4 linked regions of the Homo sapiens genome follow. The protein of the gene in region 1 interacts with the protein of each later gene in a pairwise test. Each region holds a gene or a part of one and is shown in the gene's direction. Other genes may lie near its edges.

Region 1 (3,967 bases):
GGCTGACACTAGTTAAAGCCAAGTTAGAGGGCTGTTTCAGGGTCTACATTGAGACTACAGTTGATATGCCTACCTCCTGAGACACTAGTGTGTGAGTCTCCTCCTGGGCCCCTGGGCAAATGGTTTTGGCAGCATGACCAAGGCCTAAATGGGGCTGAAGGCAAGCACAGGAGGATGGGTCCCTTTTCAGGTCTGGAGATGGAATCACTGTTGGTAAGTCTGCCACTTGGATGCAAATCTATTCCCTAAAACAACCTTCCTAGGTCTTGGGTTCCACTGGCATTTTACAAACTCCTACTTGAATTCCAAACTCCCTCAAAGGAACTTTTGTCTGTGGATGGCTGAAAAATTATTGTTGCTGTGGGGGCATATGTGTGGGGGACCACCTATTCTGCCAATTTACTGACTTTCCTCCTAGTAAGATTTTAAAATTACTTTTTCCCCATACATAGTTTGACTTCAGTTTTTGTCATTTACAACTAAATATTTCTATGAAAGTCGACATAATTTGTTATGGCGGAGGATGAATAAATGAAGAATGTAATGAATAGCTATTTAATATTTCAATTTCTGGTATGCTAATATATTTCAAAATTGATTAATATTTTACCTATCCAAGATATTTTTATCAAGGGTAATCTGAAGATTAAATAATCTATTTTTAAAAATTAAGTGCAAAAATTTAAGAACTAAGAGAAGTTAATAATATAACTTTGGCAATGATGCTTTTTGTGCCAGCTACAATCAATTGAGTAATTACTGCAGTAATTTTTCAGAATAATTAAGGAAAAAATCAGTAGATATCAGTTGATAATATTACTATGAGTTTTAGAATGTTTTCTATTATAATGGAAGTGACATAATAAAATAATATAAAGAAAAGAAGTATGCAATGTTAAGATTTAGCAACCTAGTCTAAAAGGCACTCTTAACAAGGTGAGGGTTGACAATGTTCGTGATCAAGACAGAAAAAAAAAAAATTCTCATAGGCACTTGAAAAATGAACCAACTAAATGACACACTTTCAAAGTCAACCTTGTACTTTTAATAGACCAAGTATCCTATATTTTGGAGGTGTGTGATGAGATAAAACTGATTTCACAATAGCCCATGTGTAGAATTTCCTGTTCAAACCTTAGTAACACGTTGATGAGAAATCTACTTTTTCCACTCTTGACTCACTCTGAGCCTTCACAGGGCAGTCTGCGAAGATTGCAGGCATTGTTTGTTCTTGTCTTGGATTTATGCCTTTAAATTTCACCTTTTATTACACAGCTATAGCAGGCCTTTTTATGAGACTAACCTGGCCTCTCCACTAAAGGATGTGTGACTTTCTGGGGACAGAAGGTATGTATTGCTACTCTCCAACTCTCTACTAGCCTACCTCATTTAGTGGGTGATTTCAAGTGCTCAATATGATACAAAGGAGGTATAATTAATATACAATAAAATCAAAGTAGAATATTGCTGTCTTCATTTGAATAACTCAGGGTAAAAACCTAAAATATGAAATATGTTGAAGGATTTCTTAAAGTTTTCAAATTATTGTTTGTGGAAATCTAGTGGGTTTGTTGATCAATATCGTTTAAGGGAAAGCTATTAACATCACAATAATGAACAATTAATTTTGTATTTTGTAATCAGTACATCATGTATCTTTGAATAATAATTTATATTTAGCTTAGCCATTAAAGATTATTAAAATAAATCAATCAATTGATGAAAGCCAAATACAATTCCTCAGACACGTAGATTAGAGAAAAGCAGTTTTTATTTTTAATAAAAATCAGAATGAGGTAGATTACATAAAATGCTAAAGGTATTACAAAGCAATAAAAATACTTTTTAAAAATTGATCAAAATATTGCAAAAAAAGATGTAGCGCATGGACATAGGAGACTTATCTGAAGATTTATTTTCCATGCTTTAACTGACATGAATCAGAAACAGTAACATAACAATTGTGACTAAAATAATAATTAAAGTAGCTAATGCTTATTGAGAACTTTAAGTGCCAGGTTGAGTGGTAAATGTTTTACATGCAACGTTTTATATGTTCTTATGCCCATTTTAGATTAACAAACTGGGTTATTAAAAATAGAATAACTTTTTAAAGGTCGCACATTATAAGTGTCAAAGCTAGAATTAATTCTAGATCTCACTGACTCCAGAGCCCATTGACTAAATGATTTAATTACATTATCTGAAATTTTACAAGTACTTATACAACTAAAGTGGCCTTTACTCACTTTGACAACCATAAAATCATTCTATAAGTTTAAATGAAATGTGCTTTAACATGAATTACCTATACTTTTATTTATCATTTTTTGGTTCATAATTTAGCCAGGAAATAAATTACCAATTACTAATTAAATTACCAATACTTCTGTAAGTATTAACAATTTATGTAGTGTTCCTAATACTATTTAGGTTATGCATAAGTTAACTGTGTCACATAGCATTTTCTGTCATATACAAATATTTAATTTTTTATAATTTTTAATAAATAATTTTTAATAATTTCTTAGAACATTTCAGCCATTAAGAAAAGACCATTTAATTACCTCTATTGATTTTCATTAATGTGTATAAATTACTAATTAAAAGTAATGTAGTGCAAGAAATTTTTATATATATATATGTCAACTTTACTATTACTCATGTGCAGACCACATAGTCTTAACCATTACTGGATTTCAAAATTAACATAAAAATGAGTGCAGAAGTTTTTCTAATACAACATTTTAATTTTTAACACAGGTAAAACATCAGACTTTAAGAAATATATTTTTATTCCTGAACTTCTTTATTCCTTAGTAATTTATTGCTTCTCATTGCCCCAGCAATAATATTTTGTCAAATGCAGAAAATTTATCTTTTTTTTTTGAGTCGGAGTCTCACTCTGTCGCCCAGGCTGGAGTGCAGTGGCACAATCTCCGCTCACTGCAACCTCTGCCGCCCATGTTCAAGAGATTCTCCTGCCTCAGCCTCCCGAGTAGCTAGGACTACAGGCGCCTGACATCATGCCCGACTACTTTTTGTATTTTTAGTAGAGACGGAGTTTCACCGTGTTAGCCAGGATGGTCTCGATCTCCTGACCTCGTGATCGGCATGCCTCGGCCTCCCAAAGTGCTGGGATTACAGGCGTGAGCCACCGCGCCCGGCCTAAAAATCTTTTTTTAAAACAAATATTCATAAGAAACGTGTTTAGGCTTGAAGAAAATCAGAGAAAGAACTTTAGATTATTTAATGCAAAATGAGCTCCAATACTCGTTCTCCACCTCACCCTTTTAATTGCACTAGGGAATCCTGTATATAAACCATTTATTAACTTCTTAACTACTGTTATTATAGAGTACAGTCCCTGACATCACACACTGCAGAGATGGATAACCAAGGAGTAATCTACTCAGACCTGAATCTGCCCCCAAACCCAAAGAGGCAGCAACGAAAACCTAAAGGCAATAAAAACTCCATTTTAGCAACTGAACAGGAAATAACCTATGCGGAATTAAACCTTCAAAAAGCTTCTCAGGATTTTCAAGGGAATGACAAAACCTATCACTGCAAAGGTAAAGCATTTAAAAGATCCTCAATATAACAGTCTAGGATGTGCAGCTTGGGGTACAGGAATGTGGGGAAAGAGAAGGGAGTGCTCATATATCTTCTATTTGCAAAGATCAGAATTCCAAGTTGAGATATGCTATTTCAATGTAAAGTATGAAGACTGATTGAACTCATTGTTGAAGTTTGTAGTCTTTGTCAAATAATTCATGGAGCATTATTTTTCCTGAAAATTCAATGGTATATTATTCTGAGAAAAAGATTACAATGGGAGATGAGGGTTTGGGGTCCAAGTTTCTCTGTATGATTCCTGTGCATTCAGGTTCTCTTGTCTGTGAATCTTCTAAACGACTGTATCCACCTCTCCTTTCGCACTGTTCCCATTTCTCTCCCTGCAGAT
Region 2 (3,500 bases), on another chromosome or scaffold:
AGTAAATATCTTTACTGTAGTGCAAAGCCAGAGGGAAGATTCCTGGCCTCCAGCTGCATAAATGCTGGAGGACACTGTTCTTTTTACTCCCTTAGGTCCTACATTTAATTCAACCTATAGTATTCATTGAGGGTCTGTGATGTGCTAGACAGCATGCCAAGTGCCAGGGCCACATTGTCTGTGCCTTCAGGGGTCTCACAGTCCAAGTACAGGAAGTGACTAAAAAGATCGTTTTATAATAGTGTGGTATGTTCTAGTGTGTTGTACAGTGGCAAAGGAGGGGCATCTGAGCTACCTCAGGTGAAGATGAAGGCATGAAAGGCCTGTTAAGTGAAGTGATGCTCAGGATGAGTTTTGAAATGAGGTAGGAATGTTCTAAATAAAAAAGCATGGGACATTAAAGGATCTGCAAAGTAGTGTACTGTGGCCTTCCCATGCTTTGTGGTGACAGCTGGCAGAGATAAGGCTAAAAAGGAAGGCAGGCGTCAGGTCATGAAGGCTTTCCCACTCTTCAATAAGGCACCAAAATATTTTAATCAGCAGATTGACACAGTTAGATTTTTCCTTTTAGCCTTTCTGTGTTTTGGTGGAGAAAGCCAGGAGGAAGAGATCAGTTAGAAGGTGTTACAATAGTCCAGGTGAGAAATGAGGGAGACTTGAACTAGGGCAGTGTCGGGAAAATAAGGAAGATTTGCGTGAGATTTAAGAGGTATTCTCACTCAATAAGAGTCCATGACTGATTGGGTGGTGGTGAGGAGAGCATGACTCCAAGCTCCAGTTGAGTGATTGGGCAGATGGATGGCGGTGTCAGTCATGGGATGAGAAACCCAGGAGAATGAACCCTCTGTGGAAGATGGAAGCTCTGCAGCCAGACTAGGACCGTTGGGTGGGGCATCCTGATCATCCTGTCAAAGACAAGGTGGTTCACAGCCAGACCCAGAAATTTTGATAAGAAAATCTAGGCAAGAGCAGGCTGCCCTCCATTAAATTCTTCTCTGCCATTGCTAGGTTGAATGGAGTGAGTGCTGTTTATCTAACTTCCATTCGATTTGATTCCTACAAAAGCTCCTGAAGAGGCGATTCCATCCAGGTCACATCAGAATCAGTTTCTGGGTACCCACGCATGAGATTTCATTGCTTCTTTTATCACAGGAGTTGGTATCCTGTGATGATTACTCCAGATTTCTCTTTCTCCTTCTCTTCATTTATATCTTTAAATTTTTTTTAGATTGTTTAAATTTATTTATTTATTTTTATTTTTTATTTCCGTAGGTTTTGGGGGACCAGGTGGTATTTGGTTACATGAATAAGTTCTTTGGTGGTGATTTCTGAGATTTTGGTGCACCCATTACCCGAGCAGTGTACACTGTGCCCAATTTGTAGTCTTTTATCCCTCACCCCCACCACCTTTTCCATCAAGTCCTTGAAGTCTCTTCATTTATGTCTTATCTTCACCTCCTTTTCTCCTTTCCTTCCACCTGCTTCCTGGGGCAAGTTGCTGAGTGAGACGCTTCTTGCTACTTTCCTCTTGGCTGCTTTTTTAATGGAGAGGTTTTTGCATTTGCTGAGCAGAAATAAGATGAGTCAGCATCCACATGTGTCACCTGTTGCATAGTAGACTGTCTATTTCAAAGGTAAATGAATGTTCATTTTTCATTTTACAACCATATATCTTGCACAGAGTCAGATATGAGGAAATTCTGCGGGTATTTTGAGCTCATCACTAGGTAGTGGCAAAAGAACAGGGACTGACATTGATGCCTGTGGTGGGTCCACAGATTTCTTTGAGCCAGTTTCTTCGCTGATAAATGGAAACCAGTGCACTTTCTCTGTGTATCTCAGGTGCAAATGAGATTACATAAAAATAACTTGAAAAACATTTTAAAAGAATTATCTTATTTACAAATGATCAAAGTAAGGCATAGTGAGGTGACAGATTCCTGCCCTTCATTCGTCAACCAAATATGCTCAGGAACAAAAATTAGCACCTAAAGGTATTGCTGTCTTATTGTCAGGTCAATAACTCCTTTCTTCCATTAGGTCAAGTTTCAGAAGTTTCTGGATATAAAAGGTAAATGGAAGTGGGTATTTGTGGGGGAAAAATTATTTTTTTCTCTATACCCACATTCAATGCAGAACACTTCTTTGGCCGTGTGTGTGTGTGTGTGTGTGTGTGTGTGTGTTTTCCACACCAACCAATTATCTGCCACCAGCTGGGTGTCTTGCAATCCAGTTCAATTCTGACATGATCTGCCTGGAGTTAGTGCAGACCCCATAGTTTAAGGGTTCAGCCCCACAAAACTTCCCTCATTTAAGATGCCAGTTACGGGAGGCTGAGGCAGGCGAATGGTGTGAACCCGGCAGGCAGAGCTTGCAGTGAGCCGAGACCGTGCCACTGCACTCCAGCCTGGGCAACAGAGCGAGACTTAGTCTCCAAAAAAAAAAAAAAAAAAAGATGCCAGTTCAGTTACAAGTCTAGGTTGTCACTTGTGCTTCTGACCAACCAGCTGCAAATTGGAGGTCTCCAAAACCCCCACCTTGGGTTTGGTCATTTGCTAGAATGGCTCACAGAGCTCAGGGAAGCATCACATTTATGGGCACACTGTAGAAAATAGAGGATATCAAAAGCCAGATAAAAAGGTACATAGGGCGGACACGTGGGACAGAATGTGGGCATCCATGTCCTTTCAGGTGTGCCACTCTCCCTTGTAAATGTGTTCAGCCACCTGGGAGCTCTCCAGACTCTGTCTTTTAGGGATTTTTATGGAGATTTCCTCACATAGGCATGGTGGATTATTAGCTTGCTTTCCAGCCTCTCTCCCCTCTGGAGGATGGGGGTGGAGGTGGGGCCAAAAGCTTCAGATTTCTTCTTCTTCTTTTTTTTTTCTCCAGACAGTTTTCACTATATTGCCTAGGCTGATATCAAGCTCCTGGCCTCAAGCGATTCTCCCTGCTCAGTCTCCCGAGTAGCTGGGACTACACGCATGCACCATCCCACTCCACCACACTGGCTGAAAGTTCCAAGCTTCTAGCTGCGGCTTGGTCTTTCTGATGATCAGCCCCCATCCAGCAGCCCGCCAAGAGTTGCCTCATCAGAAATAAAGACACTCCTATAACCCAGGAAACTGCAAGAGATTTAGGAGCAGGTCTGTGTCAGGAGCTGGAGTAAAGACCAAATGTTAGAGTAAAAGATGTACCCGGCGCCCCTGTCACTCAGGAAGTAACAAGGGTTTTAGGAATTCTGTGCCAGGAACTGGGGCAGAGACTAAACAGTATACATATTGTTATTATATCACAGTATTGGAACTTTATGCCCTTTCCCTTGACTTTTCTAAACACAGGCCCTGCCATGTGTCACTGCCACAGTGTTTTCCTCTCAGGGTTGGGGCCATTACTCTGCTTAAGCCAGCCTGTGTGACTACCACACCCTGTGCATGGGTTAGGAGTTAATGATGGCACCTGCCTTATTCTGGAAGCTGGTCTCTAATTAGCCACTGCAT
Region 3 (3,380 bases), on another chromosome or scaffold:
GCTGGGATTACAGGCGTGAGCCACCGCGCCTGGCCCTGTGTCCCCTCCTATCCGTCTCCCAGTCAGGGGCCCGGTGCTGTGGCCCCGCTGACCCCTCCCCTGCCTCCTCAGCCCCAGGATGGGTGAGTTCAACGAGAAGAAGACAACATGTGGCACCGTTTGCCTCAAGTACCTGCTGTTTACCTACAATTGCTGCTTCTGGGTGAGGAGGGGTCGCCTTGCCCCCACCCCCACCCCCACCCCTCCCGGGCCACCATCAGACCTGGGCAGATGCGATGACCTTTGTGTACTGCTTGTAGCTGGCTGGCCTGGCTGTCATGGCAGTGGGCATCTGGACGCTGGCCCTCAAGAGTGACTACATCAGCCTGCTGGCCTCAGGCACCTACCTGGCCACAGCCTACATCCTGGTGGTGGCGGGCACTGTCGTCATGGTGACTGGGGTCTTGGGCTGCTGCGCCACCTTCAAGGAGCGTCGGAACCTGCTGCGCCTGGTCAGGAGGGCGCAGGGCCACGGGGTGGGGGTGGTGCAGATGGGCCCAAGGAGGTTGTCGCTGCAGGCTTTGAACCTGTGCCTTGCTGTGCTCACCTGGGGGGGGGGTCACGGTCCTTCCACACCTGCCTAGTCCTGTGGGTCCCCACGTTCCTGCTGGACCAGCTGAGGGAAGACACCAGCTCCGCAAGAAAGCTTCAGGGAGGGTGGCCGCCCCTCAGCCCCCACCTGGAGCCTGGGGAGCCGGGGTGGGGACTCTGCTCTGAGGTGCACTAGGTCTAGGCACTAGGCCTCAGAACAAGGGTGCCCTTGTGCTGCCCCCCCCAGTACTTCATCCTGCTCCTCATCATCTTTCTGCTGGAGATCATCGCTGGTATCCTCGCCTACGCCTACTACCAGCAGGTGAGGGGCCTGGGCAGGCCATTCAGAGACACAGACATGCACAGGCGGGGCGGACACACACACATGCACACGCGTGGCTAGCCCCAACCCCCACCCCCATGGTCCCAGAGCTAACCAATGTGCCACTGGGCCCTGGAGATGGGGTCTAGGTCTCTGCAGGGGCACATGGGGTCAGGCAGGTGTCCAGGGGATCCAGAAGCTCTCTCTGCCTCTGCCGCACTTCATTGTCACCCTGGTGACGGTCCTGGCACCACCCAACCTCCCCTCATGCCGAGGTGTGACCTCAGCCCTTCCCTGTGGCTCTGAGCTGGGCCCCGGGCCTCCCCACCGGCCATCCTGGGGCTCTGCCAGCCCCACCTTGGAAGGTCTTAGACTGAGGCTGAAGTTTCCTGCACCCCAACCCCAGCTGAACACGGAGCTCAAGGAGAACCTGAAGGACACCATGACCAAGCGCTACCACCAGCCGGGCCATGAGGCTGTGACCAGCGCTGTGGACCAGCTGCAGCAGGAGGTGGGTGGGTGGTGCTGGGAGGGCGCGTGCATCCCCAGGGCCTCCCTGGACCTCTGCAGGAGCCTCTGGCCCCAGGTCTCAACCCCAGCCTTGTTCTTGATGCAGTTCCACTGCTGTGGCAGCAACAACTCACAGGACTGGCGAGACAGTGAGTGGATCCGCTCACAGGAGGCCGGTGGCCGTGTGGTCCCAGACAGCTGCTGCAAGACGGTGGTGGCTCTTTGTGGGCAGCGAGACCATGCCTCCAACATCTACAAGGTGGAGGTGGGTGTGCAGCGGGATCATGCCTCCAGTGTCTACGAGGTGGTGGGGGGGCACCCCAGTGACTGGCTGTGGGCAGTGGGACACGCCTCCAATATCTACCAGGAGGTGGGGGGTCACCCCAGTGGCCGGATGTGGGCAGTGAGACCACACCTCCAATATCTACGAGGAAGTGGGTGGGCAGCCCAGTGGCTGGCTGAGCTGTTGGTGGCCTGGCTGCCTAGGTGCTAGGGGTGGGTTTGGCCACACCCTGGAGGCTGGAGGCAGTAGGGGCCAGTGGGAGGTGCCCCCTGGGCCCGCCTTCAACACCCATCCGCGCCCCGCAGGGCGGCTGCATCACCAAGTTGGAGACCTTCATCCAGGAGCACCTGAGGGTCATTGGGGCTGTGGGGATCGGCATTGCCTGTGTGCAGGTGAGGGCACATGGGGGTGGCGGTCATCTTGTTGGGGACACGGGGCAGGGCGGTGGCTGGTGGCCCCATGACGTCTGCTTACGCCCACCCGGCTCTGCACACAGGTCTTTGGCATGATCTTCACGTGCTGCCTGTACAGGAGTCTCAAGCTGGAGCACTACTGACCCTGCCTTGGGCCTTGCTGCTGCTGCACCCAACTACTGAGCTGAGACCACTGAGTACCAGGGGCTGGGCTCCCTGATGACACCCACCCTGTGCCATCACCATAACCTCTGGGGACCCCAACCTCAGAGGCAGCTTCAAGTGCCTTTTGCTGCGCACCAATGCCCAGCAGGGGAGGTGAGGGGGGCTGGCGGGGCGAAGTTTGGGGGGTGTTTTGTGGGGCTCCCCAGACACACTCTCTGCCTGGTGGTCAGATGCAGGTTGGAAGGGGCCTTGCTGAGTGGCGCAAGGCCGAGCGTTCCCAGCAGGGGGAGAAACCCTTCACACCCCAGGCCCTTCAGGAACTGGGGCCTTGCCTTGCAGCCACATGGCCCCATCCCAGTTGGGGAAGCCAGGTGAGCTCTGACCCTTGGGCCTGGGCCTCTGCCCCTCCCAACCCAGCCCTCGTCTCCCTCGACAGCGCCCCTGCTGTCTTCCCCACCGCAGTCACCACCACCCGAAATGCCACGTGGTCACTGTGCACTGCCCTGTTCATGTGCCTCTGCGGGGCAGGGCCTTCCTGGTTTTGTTCACTGCTGTACCCAGATGCCTACAACCATCCCTGCCACATACAGGTGCTCAATAAACACTTGTAGAGCAGATGGACGAGCTCGCTGTGCTGGTAACAGATGGTGGTCTGTTCTCAGGGCCCTCGCATCCAGCAGGGCAGACAGACCCACCCCCGCCCCGCCCAGTGTCAGGACAAAGAAGGGCAGAGCCAGGAGGACACACCCCCCATGGGGCTCCAGGGAAGGGAGGTCTGATGCCAGGGACAGCTGAGCACAGGCCTCAGCAGAAAGAACTGAACATGTTCCTAAATGGTGAGATGGTGTGTTCAGAGCCCCTGGGGGAGAGGAAAAATGGTTTCCAAAACCCTTCTGGCCATGGTGGGGAGCAGACGTGGGAAGGGTGCAGACTGGGGGCCGTGCCCAGGTAAGAGGTGTCAGGCAGGTGGGGTGGGGGCAGTAGGGTGAGGGGGTTTACATGGAGGAGCCTATAGGCCCTGCTGGGGGCCAGAGGGTAGGAGGTACCAGAGCCTGGTGTCTGGCAGAGGTACCCTGGAGATGGGAGCCAGGGCTCGGTCACTGATTGTGCCCCCCAC
Region 4 (4,074 bases), on another chromosome or scaffold:
GTGTGGCCCACTGTCAGAACTTAATAAAAGTCAACTCATTTGCTGGTTCCAGGTGCCCTCTGGTTGTGCGGCCTTCGTGACCCTCACACGTTCATGGTGTCAATCTCTCTGCCCCCGTGAAGAGCTGCACTTGATCCAGCCTGTGAGGGGCATCCTCTCTTCCAGAAAGGGGGCCCCCAGTACTCCAGGGGACGTGCTACTTGCTCATGCTCCCATCTAGCCTTTATCCCCCATGGCAAGTTTAGTCCTGTGGGTTGTCTGCAGAGAGAATGGAGCTTAGTCCATGTTGCAGTGGGAAGTTCATGAACTTAGAATGCCTGTGTCGAATCCAAGTTCCACCGGGACTCTGGGAAAGTAACTTAAGCTTCTCTCCAAAATGGGTTAATAATACCTAGCCTGTGGGGTTGTGCTGAGGACTGATGAGCTCATGGCTGTGGACAGGGCTAGCCAGCTGTAAAAGGACACATAAATGTTAATCATTGGTATTAGGAAGTGCTTGATAATGCCTGTGAGAAACGAGGCAGAAGGCCCCTCCCTAGCTGCACATTAACCTTCATCATCCCAGCCAGAACACAGGTCCCAGGCCCCCCACCAGCATATGTGAGGTCACACTCCAGCCTCCCTGGAGGCCTTCCCCAGGACCCACAGAGGATGGACAGCGATGCTGTGCCTGGCCCTGTGCTAACTGGGGCATTTCATGCTGCTGACCTGCATTCCTTGCCTCCACCAAGGCTATGGGTGCCCTGGTCTAGAAAAGTCATAGTTGACCCCTCCCATTTCCTACACAATCCAAGAGCTTCCAGACTCCAGTCCCAGAAATATCCCACCACCAGAATGGGATGCGTTCCTGCACTAAATTAAGGTTGCCCCTTTCCGTAGATGTCAGCTGCTGAGACCTCAGTATCAGGCTTCCCAGGAAAAGGGCAGGAGAGAGGGCAAGGAGGCAGGGTAAGGAGGCAATGGGAAGGGGACAGGGTCAATCCCACTGGTGCTGTCCTAGGCCTAGGCATAATGATATCAGGCTCCTGAACCCCACACAGCAGTCTCACCCACATACCTGCCTGCCTGGGAGCCAGGCTCAGCCATACCCAGCCAGGCTAGAGAGGAGGCGTGGGCCAGGAGAGAAGAGCCGCAGGTGTTTGCTCTGAGTATGTGCCCGGGGAAGTCCGCCCTCCTGCCTGCCCACCCAATCACTCTCGCTTGGCTCATTGGCCCAGAAAGCCCCACCCAGCAAGGGAGAGAGGAACAAAAGCTGCCTCCGGGAGGTCCTGAGGCAAACAGACAAGCCCAAGGACAAGGAAGCAGCTACTGGACCCAAGAAGGGTGAGGACCGAATAGGGCAGGAGGCTGGCCAGGAAGCAAGCAACCAGCTGAGCTGAGGATATCCAAGGGACCTCAGGCTGTGGGCTGGGCTTCAGGGAGGGAGCCAGAGGGTCAGTGTCCCTAGAGGATCCCCAGGGAAGTGCCAAGGAGGAGAAGGAATGTCCTGGCTGACCTAAGGGACGACAGAAGATTGGGGAAGAGGGGGTATCAGGAAGAAATGGGTTTCAGTTCAGTTTAACAAACATCTATTGTGTGTTCACTGGGCCAGGCCAGTGCTAGGTGCTAGGGAGACAGAGGTGAAGAGCCTGCCCTCTAGCAGCTGACAGCCTGGCAAAAAAATAAGACAGGTAAATAGACCATTTGGGTACAGGCGATGCCTCTTGCTCTGAAAGTGTCCCAGGCACACGATGTCTGAAGAGGCTGAGAGCAGAGTCAGGGATTGGGGATGGGGAAGGAGGAGGGTAGGAGGAGGGGAGGGTTGGACATGGGGCCTGATGGGGACTCCAGACAAGGGGGTGTGGAGGTCAGAGTCCACAGGAGAGGGGCCTGAGAGGAAATAATGGAAATGCGGCTAGCAAACAGCCACTAAATGGACAGAGGAGGGGGTGCCCCCAGAGAAAGTAAATGGGGGGTCCAGACCATGCCAGAATCCATCCTCAGTCCTTCCTAAAGCTGGAATGGTTGGAATTCCAGAGGAACCCACTGTGGTCAAGACAGTCAGCCCTCAGGCCCCAGCACCAGTACACGGGTTGGCAGGGATGATATCAAGTCCCCGTGATTCCAAAGCACCTCTGTTTAGTTTGGGAGGGAATGCCAGGGCTGAGAACCTTCCTGGAGCCAGAGGCAAGGAGTAAGGATGCAGATTGTTCTGGGATTTACCAAGGGGCTGATGTGAACGTCCCCAACACGGGGCCAGGCTCTTGTTGGTGTTCAGTAAAAGTGGGATGGATCTGACAACTGATAAGGATACGTTCCCACCCCTCCTGCCCTGGCCCAGCCCTGGCAGCTGATGGGAGAGCAGATCGTCCAATTCAAGCCTTCCTACGGTCTCTTTAGAAGACATGGGCTGAAACTTGGGGTAATAGAGGTTGGCTGGCATATCCATGCAGGATGATTGTCTTCACATGTATCTATTACCTTGTAGAATAAGGTAGACCCTGATTTTGGAACCTGAAGACCAAAGTGCAAGATTAGCTCTGCTACTTCCATCTGTGGACCATTGGGCAGGTATCTCTGGGCCTTCACTTACTCTTTGTGAAATGAGGACAGGGGCAATCCCTACCCTACCAAGTCATTGGGAGTGAAGACATGATGACACGGTGATTGTGAAAAGATTTTGTCAATCGCACCAGCATTAAGGGTGCCCATCTCCAGGTTCCCCCAGGCCTCAAGGCTCCCAAGGCCTGAGTGGGCAGGTAGCACCCAGGTATAGACCTTCCACGTGCAGCACCCAGGACACAGCCAGCATGAACTGGGCATTTCTGCAGGGCCTGCTGAGTGGCGTGAACAAGTACTCCACAGTGCTGAGCCGCATCTGGCTGTCTGTGGTGTTCATCTTTCGTGTGCTGGTGTACGTGGTGGCAGCGGAGGAGGTGTGGGACGATGAGCAGAAGGACTTTGTCTGCAACACCAAGCAGCCCGGCTGCCCCAACGTCTGCTATGACGAGTTCTTCCCCGTGTCCCACGTGCGCCTCTGGGCCCTACAGCTCATCCTGGTCACGTGCCCCTCACTGCTCGTGGTCATGCACGTGGCCTACCGCGAGGAACGCGAGCGCAAGCACCACCTGAAACACGGGCCCAATGCCCCGTCCCTGTACGACAACCTGAGCAAGAAGCGGGGCGGACTGTGGTGGACGTACTTGCTGAGCCTCATCTTCAAGGCCGCCGTGGATGCTGGCTTCCTCTATATCTTCCACCGCCTCTACAAGGATTATGACATGCCCCGCGTGGTGGCCTGCTCCGTGGAGCCTTGCCCCCACACTGTGGACTGTTACATCTCCCGGCCCACGGAGAAGAAGGTCTTCACCTACTTCATGGTGACCACAGCTGCCATCTGCATCCTGCTCAACCTCAGTGAAGTCTTCTACCTGGTGGGCAAGAGGTGCATGGAGATCTTCGGCCCCAGGCACCGGCGGCCTCGGTGCCGGGAATGCCTACCCGATACGTGCCCACCATATGTCCTCTCCCAGGGAGGGCACCCTGAGGATGGGAACTCTGTCCTAATGAAGGCTGGGTCGGCCCCAGTGGATGCAGGTGGGTATCCATAACCTGCGAGATCAGCAGATAAGATCAACAGGTCCCCCCCACATGAGGCCACCCAGGAAAAAAGGCAGGGGCAGTGGCATCCTTGCCGTAGCAGGGTGGTGAGGAGGGTGGCTGTGGGGGCTCAGGAAGCTCGCCCAGGGGCCAATGTGGGAGGTTGGGGGTAGTTTGGTCCCTGGGTCCTGAGCCTCAGGGGAGGGAGGTTGATAGCTACTGGGGATTTTGTATATGGCAACAGTATATGTCAAACCTCTTAATAAATATGATTTTCCCAGTACTTTGCAGACCAGGTGGGGAGTGGCCGATAGGAAAACGGGGGGCAGGGGGGATTAGGTGGACCTCAGAGAGGATGCCAAGACTACTCAGTGAGCACCTGAGCACTGGAACCTCAGATCCAGGCTCACCCATCACCCCCCAACACACACAGTGTGTGCCCCCAGAACATGATGGGCTGTGCCCAAAGGCAGAGGCTACTCCAGGGGCCTCTGG

What was found. The genes of interacting proteins can lie anywhere in the genome.
Region 2: the proteins of KLRC1 (region 1) and C3orf52 interact in binary tests that used the Homo sapiens proteins (3 or more experiments, as listed by UniProt).
Region 3: the proteins of KLRC1 (region 1) and CD151 interact in binary tests that used the Homo sapiens proteins (3 or more experiments, as listed by UniProt).
Region 4: the proteins of KLRC1 (region 1) and GJB4 interact in binary tests that used the Homo sapiens proteins (3 or more experiments, as listed by UniProt).

The regions. Positions count from the first base shown.
Region 1 is NC_000012.12:10,450,578-10,454,544, reverse strand, and holds the start of KLRC1 (NKG2-A/NKG2-B type II integral membrane protein), read left to right. Parts: upstream 1-1,167; 5' UTR 1,168-1,347; intron 1,348-3,357; 5' UTR 3,358-3,388; coding exon 3,389-3,575; intron 3,576-3,965; coding exon 3,966-3,967. UniProt on the Homo sapiens protein: Immune inhibitory receptor involved in self-nonself discrimination.
Region 2 is NC_000003.12:112,103,389-112,106,888, forward strand, and holds part of C3orf52 (TPA-induced transmembrane protein), read left to right. Parts: intron 1-3,500. UniProt on the Homo sapiens protein: Has a role in LIPH-mediated synthesis of 2-acyl lysophosphatidic acid (LPA). LPA is a bioactive lipid mediator involved in different biological processes, and necessary to promote hair formation and growth.
Region 3 is NC_000011.10:835,952-839,331, forward strand, and holds the end of CD151 (CD151 antigen), read left to right. Parts: intron 1-111; 5' UTR 112-118; coding exon 119-202; intron 203-299; coding exon 300-491; intron 492-817; coding exon 818-892; intron 893-1,298; coding exon 1,299-1,403; intron 1,404-1,508; coding exon 1,509-1,667; intron 1,668-1,990; coding exon 1,991-2,077; intron 2,078-2,181; coding exon 2,182-2,241; 3' UTR 2,242-2,880; downstream 2,881-3,380. UniProt on the Homo sapiens protein: Structural component of specialized membrane microdomains known as tetraspanin-enriched microdomains (TERMs), which act as platforms for receptor clustering and signaling.
Region 4 is NC_000001.11:34,758,466-34,762,539, forward strand, and holds GJB4 (gap junction beta-4 protein), read left to right. Parts: upstream 1-1,274; 5' UTR 1,275-1,323; intron 1,324-1,388; exon of another isoform or gene 1,389-1,670; intron 1,671-2,467; 5' UTR 2,468-2,789; coding exon 2,790-3,590; 3' UTR 3,591-3,862; downstream 3,863-4,074. UniProt on the Homo sapiens protein: Structural component of gap junctions. Gap junctions are dodecameric channels that connect the cytoplasm of adjoining cells. They are formed by the docking of two hexameric hemichannels, one from each cell membrane.